2 linked regions of the Homo sapiens genome follow. The protein of the gene in region 1 interacts with the protein of each later gene in a pairwise test. Each region holds a gene or a part of one and is shown in the gene's direction. Other genes may lie near its edges.

Region 1 (7,585 bases):
CCTTCCCCGCTCTACCCCCAATCCTGCACCAGCCCCTCAGTGTGTGAATGAGGCAATAGCCAGACTCCCGTGATTTAGAGCGCGCTCCAGAGCCTCCTCTGCCCACTCCTCCTTACCCCGCTGGGGTGCCTGCAACTTAATAATAGCCTCCTTACCTGTAGTTTACAAAACCCTTTCCCAGACCCCCCGCCCCTAGGCCCTCTCTCTGCAGGTGGCCCCTGATATCCCTGTTAGAGACACAGGCTTAGTGAGGACAAGGACCTCACCCAGGCCCACAGTGAAAGGCAGAGCCGGCTGGAATGCAGAGGCAAGGCTCTGTGCTGTGTAGACTATGCCTTATCCTTAGACGAGGAGTGTCTTGGTGGAATCTCAGGCACTGTAGCGGGCAGGGTGGCCGGGGTCAGGGGGCACTTGTCCCTGAAATCCACTTGGGAGCTCCCCGCCCTCCACAGTTCAGCTCTTTGCCTGGGAGAATAGAGGAGCAAGGTGCAGCAGCCTCAGCCCTGGGCCGAGGGTCTGTCATGAGCCTGCGGGGGCGCGGTGGCAGTGGCTCACCCTGGACACAGACCCTAGGAGCCGGTGGTCTCCAGCAGCGTCCCTCCAGCTGGGGCTCAGTCATTGCCTTTCCTACTCAGGAGACTGTTTTCTGGGCAGCTCTTCTGTAGGTTTCCTTATCAGTCACCTGCATGGGAGCCCTAACTCACAGGCTGGACAGAAGAGGCCCAGTGCCCTCCGGGTGTGAACCCTCGCACACATGCGTTCTCACAGGCTCTCCTCCGCAGGGCTGCACCGGCCCCCACAGCACCTTTTTGCCAGCTAGGGAAAGACGTCTCTCCTCCAGGCAACATGCAGCCTCACCAGAGTGCACGGTGTAGCAGAGTGGGGTGTGATCTCTCTCCCAGGTGCCTTTGTGCAGTGAGCAACCTACACAAACATGCTCAGTGAACCTAGAAAGTCCCTACAGATCTGCCTGGAAGGGGGCTCAGAGAAGGGAAGTGATGCATCTGAGAGGACTCAGTGTGTGGGGACTGAAGCTGGGAGGGCCCCTGGGATGTCTGTCAGCCTGCCTCAGAGTGGACACGAGTGGGGGCATGCAAAGGAGTGGAGCAGGACAAATGGGTGCCTGCCATGGATCGGCGGGGAGGACCCACGGTCTCCATCTTGCCCTGCCACCCACTTGAGGTTCCCTGAATTCCCACACTGTTCCAGGCTCCCAGAGGGGTCAGACTTGGACTCACCTGCATGGGAAAGGCCCTTTCTTCTCCTCTGAGCCTCAGTATTCTCCTGCGGATAATGGGATTATAATAGCCCCCACCCCAGCCTCAAGAGGGCTCTACCAGCTCATGATGATGATGATGATGACTGTTCAGTCCAGCGGGACAGCAGCCAAAGCACTGCCTCTCCTCACCCCACCCCTACCTAGCCTCAGGTGATGTCCAGGCTTTCCTGGCAGGGGCAGAGCAGAACCACCCGCCCACCTGCCTGCCCCAAGTCCCAGGATCCTGAGCTTGGGCTGCAGCTGCCCAACTCTGATTTTCCTCCCTGTATCCACAAGGCAAAAGCCAGAGCAGCCAGGGACCAGACAGGGTGGCCTAGGAGAGGGCACAGCCGCAGCACTCTGTGCATGCATGCACGCATTCTGGCAGAAGATCCCGGCTCTGCCTCTCACCAGCTGTGTGACCTTGGGCAAGTCACACGACCTCTCTCAGTCTCATAATTGCTCCCTTGCATGTGAAGTGTTAAGCCTGGGCTGAGTGTGCACTGTATCCCCATTTGAAGATGAGAAAACTGAGTCCCCAGGGCTGCAGAGCTTGTTAAATGTTAAATGTCAAAGCTCATGCTCTTTGGATCACGCCCAGGCCCCACAGTGGGACCCCATGGGCGCTCAGGCCACCCAGGTGGCAAGCGATTGGGTCTCCTGGGGTGGTTGTGGGACCTGGGCCCCTCCCCTTAGTGATCTGAAGCTCACTCTCCCCAGCCTAGAATGGGGCTGGTTCCTCATTCCTGGAGCCTGGACCAGCTGTAGGGAGGGCTGCACGTGGGCCTGGAAGTTGTGTGGGGAATGTGGGCTGGACTGGGCATCCTGGAGAAGCCATTTCCCCTCTCTGCCGACCCTCTCCAGTGGTAGACAGGGATGGGTCTGCACAGACTGCCCTGTATATAGTTGCAGAAAGGGTCCAACAGCTGTCATCTCTGTCCCTGACATGTGTGGGCCCCTCAGTATTCTCCCCCAGGCCAGGAGGCTCTCAAGGACAGCCAGGGCTCAATATGTGTCCAGTTGCGAGACAGGCAGGGAGAAGGGCTGACTGGGGACTGTGAGAGGGAGGAGTTAGAGCCATAGGCTGCCCTGCCTAGGAGAGGGAAACCAGCCCCATTCTAGGCTGGGGAGAGTGAGCTTCAGATCACAAAGGGGAGGGGCCCAGGTCCCACAGCCAGAGCTAGGATTGAAACCCACTGGTGGGACACACTCCAGGAGAGGGGGTGAATCTCTGGTTGTGCTTCTGTGGGTGAATTGTGGCTGAGACCCAGGTCTCCTGGGGTATGCTTCTGTGGTTGGGTGGGTACACTTGGGTGTGAGTATGTATGTCTTGGGGAGATTATAGCTTCAACTCCGGGTGTGAAGTTGACCTGGGTGGGTGTTGATAAGCAGAGCAGATTTCTTTTCCTTTCTTTTCTCTTCTTTTTTCTTTCTTTTTTTTTTTTTTTAAAGAGATAGGGGGGCCAGGTGCAGTGGCTCACACCTGTAATCCTAGCACTTTGGGAGGCCAAGGTGACCAGATCATGAGGTCAGGAGATTGCGACCATCCTGGCCAACATCATGAAACCCCGTCTCCACTAAAAATACAAAAATTAGCTGGGTGGGCTGGGCGCGGTAGCTCATGCCTGTAATCCTAATACTTTGGGAGGCTGAGGCGGGCAGATCACCTGAGGTCGGGAGTTCGAGACTAGCCTGACCAACATGGAGAAACCCTGTCTCTACTAAAAATACAAAATTAGCTGTCATGGTGGCGCATGCCTATAATCCCAGCTACTCCAGCCTGGGCAACAAGAGCGAAACTCCATCTCAAAAACAAAACAAAACAAAACAAAACAAAAGTAGCTGGGCATGGTGGCTCGCACCTGTAGTCCCAGCTACTTGGGAGGCTGAGGCAGGAGAATCACTGGACCCGGGGAGGCGGAGGTTGCAGTGAGCCAAGATTGTGCCACTGCACTCCAGCCTGGTGACAGAGTAAGACTCTGTCTTAAAAAAAAAAAAAAAAAAAAAAGGGATAGGGTCAAAAAAAAAAAAAAAAAAAAGAGAGAGAGATAGGGTCTCGGCTGGGTACAGTGGCTTACACCTGTATTCTCAGGACATTGGGAGGCCGAAGCAGGAGGAGCACCTGAGGTCAGGAGTTCAAGACAAGCCTGGCCAACACGGCGAAACCCTGTCTCTACTAAACACACAAAAATTAGCCAGGCGTGGTGGCGTGTGCCTGTAATCCCAGCCACTCAGGAGGCTGAGGCAGGAGAATCACTTGAACCTGGGAGGTAGAGGTTGCAGTGAGCTGAGATCACACCACTGCACTCCAGCCTGGGCCGACACACTGAAACTCTGTCTCAAAAAAAAAAAAAAAAAAAAAAAAAGCGGAGCGAGCGAGAGAGATAGGCTCTCACTGTATTGCCCAGGCTGGAGTGCAGTGGCACAACCAGGACTCACTGCAGTCTCGACCCCCGGGGCTCATGTGATCTTCCCACCTCAGCCTCCCAAGTAGCTGGGATTACAGGCCCACACCACCTCAACCAGCTAGTTTAAATTTTTTTTTTTTATAGAGACAGGGTCTTGCTATGTTGCCCAGGCTGGTCACAAACTCCTGGGTTCAAGCAATTCTCCTGCCTCAGGCTCCCAAAGTGCTGGGATTATAGGCAGCCACCGCACCAGGAGAGGCTGGATCTTATAGACATCCTGGCCCCTGTGTGCAAGTCCACTGGGTCCAGAAGTGAGGAGGGGGCTGCACAGATGTGTGGAGACCCTGGCCCAGGAGGGCCTCTCTGGGAGAACGTGCAATAGGGCAAAGCGCTGGCAGCTGGGACAGAAAGCTGCAGGGCTGGGACCTCCGGCCTCCATCCAAAGGTAGGGCTCAGGGCTGTGTGCTCCAGGCTGCTCTCCCGGGCACCCCACCCCTAAGGGCGGGCCCTAGTACCAGTCTCTGCCTGCTCCGGCTCTCCCCGCCCCTCCTTTCCATCTCTTCTCCATGGTGGGCCTCCCTCTTTCTTCATGGCAGCCCTACGTCTGTGACCCTCGACGACAGTCCCTGTCCATCTGTACCTGGCCCTCTGTCGGGACTTCCTCTGTGTCTCTGAAGACCCCCGTCTCTCCCTGCCTGCTCCGTGCCCTCCTCCTGCTGGGTCCGTGTCCCGCCACACGCCCCCAGGTCTGGGACGTTTTCGTGGCTGACGGGCGGGGGGGGGGGGGGGCGCGTCCCCGGCGGGTCCCTATCGGTCCCTGTCGGTCCGTCCGCCCCGCGCCGCCCCCGCTGGGCACTGGGCATGCCCCAGGCGTTTCTATATAAAGCGGCGCCGCTTGGGCCGGGCGCTGTGCCACTGCCACCGCCGCCGCCGCTGCATCCCGCCCGGTCCGAGTCCGCCCGCCACGCCCGCCGAGCCGCTGCCGCCGCCAGGTACCCCAGCTCCGGCCCCGCCCCGGGGAGAGCCAGGGAGGGGGGCGGCCGGGGCAGGAGTCGCGGGGACGAGGACCCCGGGCGCCCGCTCCCCGCGGCGGGACCCTCGACGCTACGCCCCCCACCCCCGGGACCCGGTGCCCCCAACTCCCCCCCGCGCTGGAGGGGCAGAGCCAAGCCCGGACCCCAGGGCAGGAAGGACCTGTGAGCCGCACTGGGGCAGGAGCCACTCGGTCTGGGCAGCAGAAATCCCTCCCTACCTTCGGGGTGGGGGTGGGGCTGCCTTGGCCTCTCTCTGCAGGGACAGGTGTCGGCCACCTCTCCACTCCCAAAGTCTAGGGGCTGGAAGGCCAGGCAGGGACTTGGCTGCCCTGACTCCTTCGTCTCTCTGTCCCTCTGTCTCTGCCATCAGTCTCTCAGCCACTCCACCCACGAGATGGTGAGTCTTCTGTGGTCCCTCCCCCACAAGGCCCAAGTCCCTGGGCAGAGAGTGGGCCCAGAGGACAGCAGGCAGCACCTAGGACCTAAGCCTGGGAGTTGCCCCCTGCAGACAGCTTAGACCCACGACCAGCTCCCCCACCCCCACCCTGCGGCTGCATCCTGGGAGGTGGGCACTCTTAGTGCCCTGTGACATTCATTCATTCCATGGCCCCTCAGGGAGCTCACCTTCTAGGAGACGGCACAGAGGCTCTGGCCCTGGCAAACTGGGATTCGAGCCCAGGCATGAGGCCCAGTCCTCTGCCGTCTGGGCCACAGCACACCATCTCCCAACAACCAAGAGATTCTCTTCGTCCCAGCCTCATCAGCCCCCAGGGGATGGGAGAGGGCAGGCACCAGGCAACAAGGTCCAAAGAGACCTCACGACTTGCTCAAGGTGGCCGAGCCTGTCCCCTGGAGGACAGACTCAGCTGCCAGGCCTGTCCAGGCCTGGGGACTGCAAAGAACAAGAATTCCATTCACACGAAGCCTCCCAGCAGCCCCATATTGGGGGGGCGCCAGCCTCAGAGAGGGGAGGGACGTTAGGTTTCATCCAAAGAAAGCATTTCCGTGACTCAAAATATCTGCAGGGGGGATACTGTCTAGCCTCCTAATGTTTAGCCCAGGGCTGGGCACACAGTAGGGCTTCAAGACCTACGTGGGGATGACAGTGGAATCACATTTAGGTGTCAGCACACTCCATGCCGGGTCATGAGACAGAAATAAGCCACCTCAGAGTGATGGCTGGGTTCGTTCATTCATCTACTCTTCAGTCAACAAACACTTACTGAGAAGTGGCTGTGTGCCAGGCACGCTTTAGGTGCTGGGGTTGCCTCCATGAACAAAACAAGCAGAAAACTCTGCTGCTGTGAAGCAAGCTAAGGCGGAGCCCAGCATGGCAGGGGCGGGAGGGGCTGGCTGGCAAGACATTGCTTCCTGCCCTCCCCCCAGGGGCACCACACAGAACAGTTTACAAAGCACTCCCACGGTTGCGTTCCCATTAACAAGCCTTCGCCCCCAACACAAGCCTTTCCTCTCCTAGTCCCCGGGACGGTGTCAGCCCTGAACATAGCCCAGGCTGGGAGAGTGGGGGGCTTACACCCTTGGGTGACTTAATGTGCCCACTGGCCCACCCTGCCCAAGACCTACCACTTCTGCCCTCTCAGCTCTCCCTGGATCCATCGGGTCCCGAGTGGGATTGCCCACTGGGCTCCAAGGACCTGGAGGAAGAGGGCCCCTGGGGAGGGGGCTCTGGCCTGCCGCCCACAGGCTGCTTCCCTGGCTCCTGGCGCCAGGACGTGGGCCTGGACTGCAAGGGATCCCCCGAGGGGGCCGAGGCCCGGGCTTGGACTGTCTACTACTACAGCCTCCTGCAGAGCTGTCTGCAGCAAGCTGGCCTTCCGGAGACTCAGGACCGCGGCCAGGTGCCCCGCACAGGTGCCCAAGGGCTCCCTGGAGGGAGGCACCTCTGGGGGCAGGGAGGGGCCCTCAGCCCAGTCTGCTTGCTCATCCCTGTCAAGGTCGGCCCCTTCCCCTAGGCTCTGGTTCCATCTGAAGGCAGGGAAGGCACAGCCAGTTGGCCTAGGGTAGGCGGACATTGTTTGCAAGGGCATCTGGCACCAGTGAGGTCAAGGATTGGGCTCCCTGCCCTCACCCCCTCCCCAAAAAGACCCAGCCCTGGGATTGGGAAACCACGTTGTGTGGCACCGAAGCTTCTAGAGAAAGGTCTTGGGAGCTGTGGTGGAGGCAGCTCAGCAGCTGAGACCCCCCAGACTCCTCCCCTTCTGCCCCTCCACGCCTGTTACATATATCAGACTTTGTGTGGACAGAGGGTTCACAGGCAGAATACCTGAGAATCACAGACTTGGTCCCATTGTACAAACTTGGAAACTGAGGCTTGGAGGAACACTGACTCCTCCAAGGTTACACAGAAAGTCAGAGCTCGGGCTAGAACTCAGGTCTCCAGTCACCTAGCCCACAGCACCTCTGGAACAGCTGCAGAAAGGGGAAACCAGCTTCACGGGGCAGGACTGGCGGGCACCTCCATTCCCTGCCTGTCCCCTGTCTCATCCGATTCCTGGGAAAACTCTGGGGGCTCAGGGTGGGGCCGTGGGTGTGGAGGTGGTGGAAGGTGGGCAGAGAGACAGCAAGGGCGCCCCTGGTGAGCTGGGCCATGTTCTCTTTCCCGAGGCTGTCCTGGGGCGGAGGTGACCTTGTGCGTTCTGGGCTCCCCCAGCACCTTTCTGCCTGTGCTGCTGGAGGGTGGGGTCCAGAGCCCGGGTGAGTGTATGCTCAAGTTTCCCCATCCCCTTCTACAGAAAGGGCAGCCCTGCCCTGGCCCAGCCACATCCCAAAATACCCGCCAACCCTGGCAACTGCCTGCATTCCACCGGAGCAGCTGCCATGCTGAATGGGGATGGGTTCTGGGATCAGCTGCTTCCACTCCGCTA
Region 2 (7,024 bases), on another chromosome or scaffold:
TAAAAACCCTTAATAGTGGCTAATTGTGATTCTTCAAACATTACCTTTAATTCTCAATAACATTTTATCCTCTTGGGAAATTCTCATTTGATTCCCATCCAGTGAGGTAATATAACTGTATGGCATGGGTTTCACATAAATAGATTTTTAAAACACACTAAATGTAAATGCACATGGCATTTTTTTTTTACATTTTGTTATTGGTAGGGGCCCCACATTAGATGTTGACCTGATGTTTTACTCATGTAGTTTTCTAGCAGATTATTTTAAAGTCTTAATAACTTGTTTGTTCTTTATAAAGTGATCCAGAAGGGTGTTTCACTGTACTTTGCCACATATTAAATAGTAAAGAGATTTGAAATCTTGTCACAGTTTTTTGAAAACTTTCTTTTTGCAGCTGGTTATATTCTGGGCACTAAATGAAGGCGTTTCTAGGCAATTTGATTCGTTCAGAGATGGATTTGAATCAGTCTTCCCACTCAGTCATCTTCAGTACTTCTACCCGGAGGAAGTGAGTAGCTTATATCTAAAAGAAATGGTCATACCTATAATTTTAGTGGAGTGTTTCTGTGCTGCCTAGTCAAAGACCGTATTGTTGCACAAAAACAAAAAAATGGGTGTTAGATAGCAGGGGATGGATGTTTGGGAAAGACAAGGAAATTGCCTGAGCAAGGAAGAATGTTAAATAGGTGTCCCCTCTTAGATTGGGGAGCGGGTTCCACGCGTGACAGTAAGCATAGCATCTTTGTCAGCCAAGACCCTCAATGCCATTCAGTGGAGAATGGGGACTTGTGCTGTGTGTGGCATGTTCTACATGTTTCTGTACTGCTGTGGAAGCAAAGAGAGACATGGAGGGGGCTTGACTTTATTCCTTAACTAAACTTCGTTTCGATGAGACATTGTTTCACAATCAAAGTTAGTCCTTGAAGTTTTAAGAAAGTATTATAAATTATCTAATTGCCAAATACAGAGAATACTTCTGAGAATGGAAGAAATGGATTTATGTGCTTGGTTTTCTCTAGCCGCCTGTATTAGTCTGTTTTCATGCTGCTGATAAAGACATAACCGAGACTGGGCAATTTACAAAAGAAAGAGGTTTATTAGACTTAGAGTTCCACGTGGCTGGGGAGGCCTCACAATCATGGTGGAAGGTGAAAGGCACATCTCACATGGCAGCAGACAAGACGAGAGCTTGTGCGGGGAAACTCCCCTTTTTGAAACCATCAGATCTCGTGAGACATATTCACTATTATGAGAATAGCCTGGGAAAGACCTGCCCCCATGATTCAGTTACCTCCCACCAGGTCATTCCCACAGCAGGTGGGAATTGTGGGAGTTACAGTTCAAGATGAGATTTGGGGTAGGGGCACAGCCAAACCATATTACCGTCTTTAATTTCAAGTGCCAAATCTCAAAAGAACTACTCACTGGTAGTGAGATACAGAAAGCCTCTAGAATGTGTCCAGTTTCCCTCAGTTTTGAAACCTTTTTATTTATTGTTTGAATACTAGTTTTAGAGTGTATGTTCACTACTGATTAAATCTATAAATTTTTGATTAACTTAACGTCTTAATCTCAGTTATATTTGTGTCTACTTAAGCATGTAGTGTGCCTGATACTTGTAGGCACTGCTTGTCACCTGGAATAGAATCATGGTCCTCACCACTTGCTGTATAACCTTATCCAAGTTACTGTATCTGATAGGACTGTTTCATCTGTAAAATTGGAATAACCCCTATCACAGAGTAATGGAAATTAAATAGGCTGGGCACAGTGACTTAGCCTATAATCCCAGCACTTTGGGAGATGGAGGTGGGAAGATCACTTGAGCTCGGAAATTTAAGATTAGGCTGGGCAACATAGTGAGACCTTGTCTAAAATAAAAAAAATAATTAGCTGGGCGTGGTGGTATGCACCTGTAGTCTCAGCTACTTGGAAGGCTGAGGTTGGAGGATCACTTGAGCCCAGGAGATCATGACGGGAGTGAGCTGTGATTAGGCCACTACACTCCAGCCTGGGCAACAGAGCAAAGCTTTGTCTTTAAATATATAGGACCAGACAGTGAGCATTATATAATAGATATTAAATTTCATTGGCCTCAAATTGGATTTTCTCAAAGTATAAGGACATGAAAGCATTTATTGCTTTCTAATATTCATTCTATAATATCTGGGTTGGTCCCCATACAACCAACCATGTAGCGTAGACATGCCTCTCTACAAAGTGTAAAGACCTACCCATTTGCTGTGTCCTAGTTCAGCTTGCTTCTCCCACTTCTTTCTCCAGCTCAATGTTCTCTCCCTTGGCATCTGTTACTGTATACCTTTGTGTTTCTGAAAGCCAGGATTTATAAAATCTCCCTGACTAGAAGCAGATTATCCATTTAAAGCACCTAAAGTAATGAGAAGAAAGGAAAACTGAAATCAAGGGTCATCAGGTGTTTTTGGTTTGAGAGGAAGGGTTTCTCAGGAACCAAGTCCCTGCAGATGGGCAGGGTACTTAATAGCGTACAGCTAAAAAGGAAATGGAATCTCTAAATTTTATTTTATTTTATTATTATTTTTTTTTTTTTGGAAAGAGGTCCCAAGCAGAAGGTTTTAGTACTGAGACTGATACTCTTTTATGGTACACGTAGACCTTTATTTTCACTCACGTAAACAAATGTTTCCTTAGTAATTCTTTTTACCCTTATTTAAACTCACAGCTGGATCAGCTCCTTTGTGGCAGTAAAGCAGACACTTGGGATGCAAAGACACTGATGGAATGCTGTAGGCCTGATCATGGTTATACTCATGACAGGTAAGTACTGGGGTCTGCCAGTTTTTCTGTTGATTCTGAAGAATGTGGAGAGGGGTGTGTGTGTACACACACATGCGCACATGTGTAAACAACAAAAGTTGGAGTGGTTCATTTTAAAATGTGTCTACCTGTTAATGGATGCTTACTTCTGTTTTGGCCTTATTTCTCTGAAGATGGGAAATTAAGACCCAAGGGTTTCTTTCTCAAGTATTTCTGTGAAAATACTAGGGGTTGGGGAAGACAGATTTAATCTTGTTCCCCATTATTACATATAGTAAAGCAGAAATATCTGTACAGTACCAGATCAAGTCTTACTTATTACAACTGTAATCATTCCATTTGAATTCTAGTCTAGTCATAACAGAAACGAATTTAAGTACATTGTAATGGAAAATGTATGTGTAATTTAAAAGTGCTAATCTAATTTTTATGTCATGTGATGCGATGCAGTGTGATTAAAACTCTATTTTAACCTGATGAAATAATTTTGGTATATTTATTTCTGTTATAGTCGGGCTGTGAAGTTTTTGTTTGAGATTCTCAGTAGTTTTGATAATGAGCAGCAGAGGTTATTTCTCCAGTTTGTGACTGGTAGCCCAAGATTGCCTGTTGGAGGTGGGTACGATGTTGATGTTTAGCATTTATTCTACCTATGGGTGGGTTTGTGAGTGTGAAACTTCAGTACCATCAGCAGGAGATTCTTTATCTCACTTGCAGTGCCTCTTAGTTATTCCAGTATCATTATAGTACATTGAGACCACTAGCAGGGAAATCCATGGGGATTGTCTTAAACATATTGAAGTAGGATTACTAATGCACATGTAATGCTGGTTAGATAAAATTCCAGGCCATTTGTACATTCTAAACTCTTAGTTGACTTAGATGAGAATGGATTCTAAAATCTGGTTTTTCAGATTGAATCCTAATGTAAGTTAAATTGGTATTCTGTTGTTTTTGTTTTGTTTTTTGAGACAGGATCTCACTCTTGTCACCCAGGCTGAAGTGCAGTGGCGTGATCTTGGCTCACTGCAACCTCTGCCTCCTGGGCTCAGGCGAGATCCTCCTGCTTCAGCCTCCTGTGTAGCTGGGACTACAGGCACAACACAGCACCATGTCTGGCTAATTTTTGTATTTTTGTAGAGATAGGGTTTCTCCATGTTTCCCAGGCTGGTCTGAAACTCTCAAGCGACTGGCTCACCTCGGCCTCCCAGAGTGCTGGGATTACGGGCGTGAACCACTGTGGGTATTCCATTTTAAAAATCAGAAGACATAAAGAACTGTTGCCTCCATGTTATACAGCGAGTTTTTAAATGATAAATTAAAGCAGGTTCCTTGCACTTAATGTATATTGAATGTGCAATTGCCAAGCAAGAAAGAATATCTTGTGTGTAATATTGTACGGCAAAGCAGTGGAATGTTTTCTGATAGCTGATGTTTTTTAAAAACTTAAGTTCCTTGTCTTTCTTTTTCTCTTAATCAGGATTCCGGAGTTTGAATCCACCTTTGACAATTGTCCGAAAGACGTTTGAATCAACAGAAAACCCAGATGACTTCTTGCCCTCTGTAATGACTTGTGTGAACTATCTTAAGTTGCCGGACTATTCAAGCATTGAGATAATGCGTGAAAAACTGTTGATAGCAGCAAGAGAAGGGCAGCAGTCGTTCCATCTTTCCTGATCATAGCAAGAAATGCAGTGTCTGCCTGTTACAGCAAAAGAAACAAATCATGATTTCTTTTCTAATGTTATCACCTGAGTCAAGGAAACATGTTACGCCTTCTTGTTGTAGGAAAAACGGCTTGCAGATTATAAAGAGACATTTGGTTGATATTCATTAATGGCCCCATGGACTTAAAGTGATCAGGCCCTAAAACGTTGTTGTGATGAGGTTTCTTTAGCAAGTTCTTGTTTAAATTATCATTTATTTGATGAGTGAAGTTTTTAACATGCTTTGCTGTGTGAAATTTAAAAAAGGGATGTTTTTCCAGGCTGGAACAATAAATGTGGCTGTGCAGTTTAATTCTGGGCTGTGTGTATCCATCTAGCTAAGTCTGCAGTTTTCTTTCCTCCAAAGACAACTCTTGTACATAAGTACAGAAATTTAAGCTCACATGTATTTGACAAATATAGTTTAGTAGACTAGCTCTATGTGCTTTTCACTTTCCTCTGATTTTCTCTCCCTGATTCATTATTATCTGTGCAGCTCACAGTTTTTTTTTTGTATACAACTCACAGTTCTCAAATTTTCGTTACCCATGGGCTTCTGTTGTCCCATGTTCTCTCCAGTTAAGATCTAATTTAAAATTCATTGGATTGAAATTTATTGAATATAATTCAGCTTTTGTAACTAGGTAGACTTTTCTTATAGTTTAGTTTTAATATAGTTTAGGGTATTACTGGCTTTTTCCCAGGTGACACACTAAGGACTGTTTACATGGCAATTCCAGCAGCAACAGCCTCTGGAATGAGACAAGGAAAGCTCATTTGTTTCTTTTATGAAGGTTAAGAAGTCTACAGCTTGGGCTGGCCGGTATTTATTATTCTGTGGCCAGAGGATTTTAAATTAATGTAAATTTTTTAAACAAAATAAGCAGTTTTCCTTCCCTGTTGGAGTAAAAAAATTTTTTTCCCTTTGTTGTTTTACGTTTTTGTTCATAGTCTTCTTTATTCCACGCTCCTCTTCCCCTTCTCCCAGTGCTGACTTGGGACAAAACAGTTCAGCCTTTGTCTCGACGCAGATAAAAGCACCTGTAAGCAATGCTGTCCAGTCATTTTATGTGCTGATTTCTCAAATCTGCAATAATCCATCAGGTTAATGTTTTTACCTGAAAATAAAGAAAGTTTGCTTCACCTTTTTGTTTATAGTTTTGTGCTGTATGCATAACTTTCAATTGTATAGATGTATTTCAATGCAAGGAAATCCACATATCTCCATGATTCGGGTCATGGCTGATTTTGCTATTCAAACAATTTATAATAGCAACTTGAAGAAACTAAAATGTGAAGAGAAAATGGGAGGAGATTCCTTCCTAAGGTCCAAAACTAGGCCTGTGGCATAAATTTGAAGGAATTTTCCATAATTCATCTCCTTGAAAATAAGAGATGAGCTAGTTTTTTTTTTTAATTGAACTTTGAGAAATCAATTTTTTTGACTGTTCTGTAAGTTTTAATTAATTGACACAAAAGCCCTTTTCCCTATCCCACCACCCAAAAGAAACTCAGTGGCTTGTTTGACATAGATTGCTGTGTCAATTTACACTTAAATGGCCTTATATGGAAATGTCCCCTCCTGAGAGTTCACTTGGGCAGTGACCCCATTAAGTGGAAGGGAACTGTCAGAGGAGTTGGGGGCAGAGAATTCTCTCCCTGTCTCTGCAGAGACTGACAAGTGAATGGCTTTTCCCTGAAATCCAAGAAGGGAATTGTGTTTCTGCAGTTTTCACCACTAACAGCACAGTTGCTGAGCAGCTTCATCAAGTGAAGTTAAAGACTGAAACAATTTGTTTTCAACTGTTCTGATATCTTCCTGCAAATTAAGCACAAGGATTTTTGTGTGAACATAGCATTTTGTTCCTGATTTTTAAAGGGTTCTGTTAAAATTTAGACATGTATAAACAAAATAATGTTTCATCTGTACTTGACATTTTATCCATGTTGCAGCCCTGGCAAATTTGGCCTCATTGATTCCAGCATCTAATAAGTATATATGATGATTTTGACTCAAACTCTAAAGTCTTGAGTGTTTCAAAGTCAGTCGTTACCTGTTTAAAAGCCTCAGCCTTTAGCTTATTCCTCCTTCAATACACGGGACCTTTGGTTAATTTGGGGCAGGAAAACTCTTAAAGTAATCTCTCTTGGCAGAGGCCTTATTGCACCAGAGGGAAAAAGTATATACTTCATTTGCTGTTACTCCAGTTATGCCTTAAATTCATTTGCTTGGTAATCCTATCAACGAGCACTAACTTCTTAGTATACTTTAAACACTTAGTTGGGTAACAACTGAGATTTTGTTGTCCTTTATTTTTTGCTGAGATGGAGTCAGTCAGATGTTAGTCATAGCTAACACCGAATTTGTGTTGTCATTTAGACAGTTACTGATTCGATCTGCTTTATATATGAGAACGTATTTTTAACTATTCCAAGAAGGAAGAGGTAGCTAAATGTAATCCCCTCTTCCTATCCCCCCAGAAAACTGAACTGTAAGTTCTAGGTAGACTAATTGGGAG

Evidence for each region. The genes of interacting proteins can lie anywhere in the genome.
Region 2: the proteins of CARNS1 (region 1) and TRIP12 interact in a two-hybrid assay, tested with the Homo sapiens proteins (one study listed by BioGRID and IntAct).

What each region holds. Positions count from the first base shown.
Region 1 is NC_000011.10:67,411,106-67,418,690, forward strand, and holds the start of CARNS1 (carnosine synthase 1), read left to right. Parts: upstream 1-4,572; 5' UTR 4,573-4,658; intron 4,659-5,070; 5' UTR 5,071-5,094; coding exon 5,095-5,097; intron 5,098-6,301; coding exon 6,302-6,572; intron 6,573-7,325; coding exon 7,326-7,415; intron 7,416-7,585. UniProt on the Homo sapiens protein: Catalyzes the synthesis of carnosine and homocarnosine. Carnosine is synthesized more efficiently than homocarnosine.
Region 2 is NC_000002.12:229,765,006-229,772,029, reverse strand, and holds part of TRIP12 (E3 ubiquitin-protein ligase TRIP12), read left to right. Parts: intron 1-397; coding exon 398-511; intron 512-2,704; coding exon 2,705-2,799; intron 2,800-3,310; coding exon 3,311-3,414; intron 3,415-4,279; coding exon 4,280-4,476; 3' UTR 4,477-7,024. UniProt on the Homo sapiens protein: E3 ubiquitin-protein ligase involved in ubiquitin fusion degradation (UFD) pathway and regulation of DNA repair.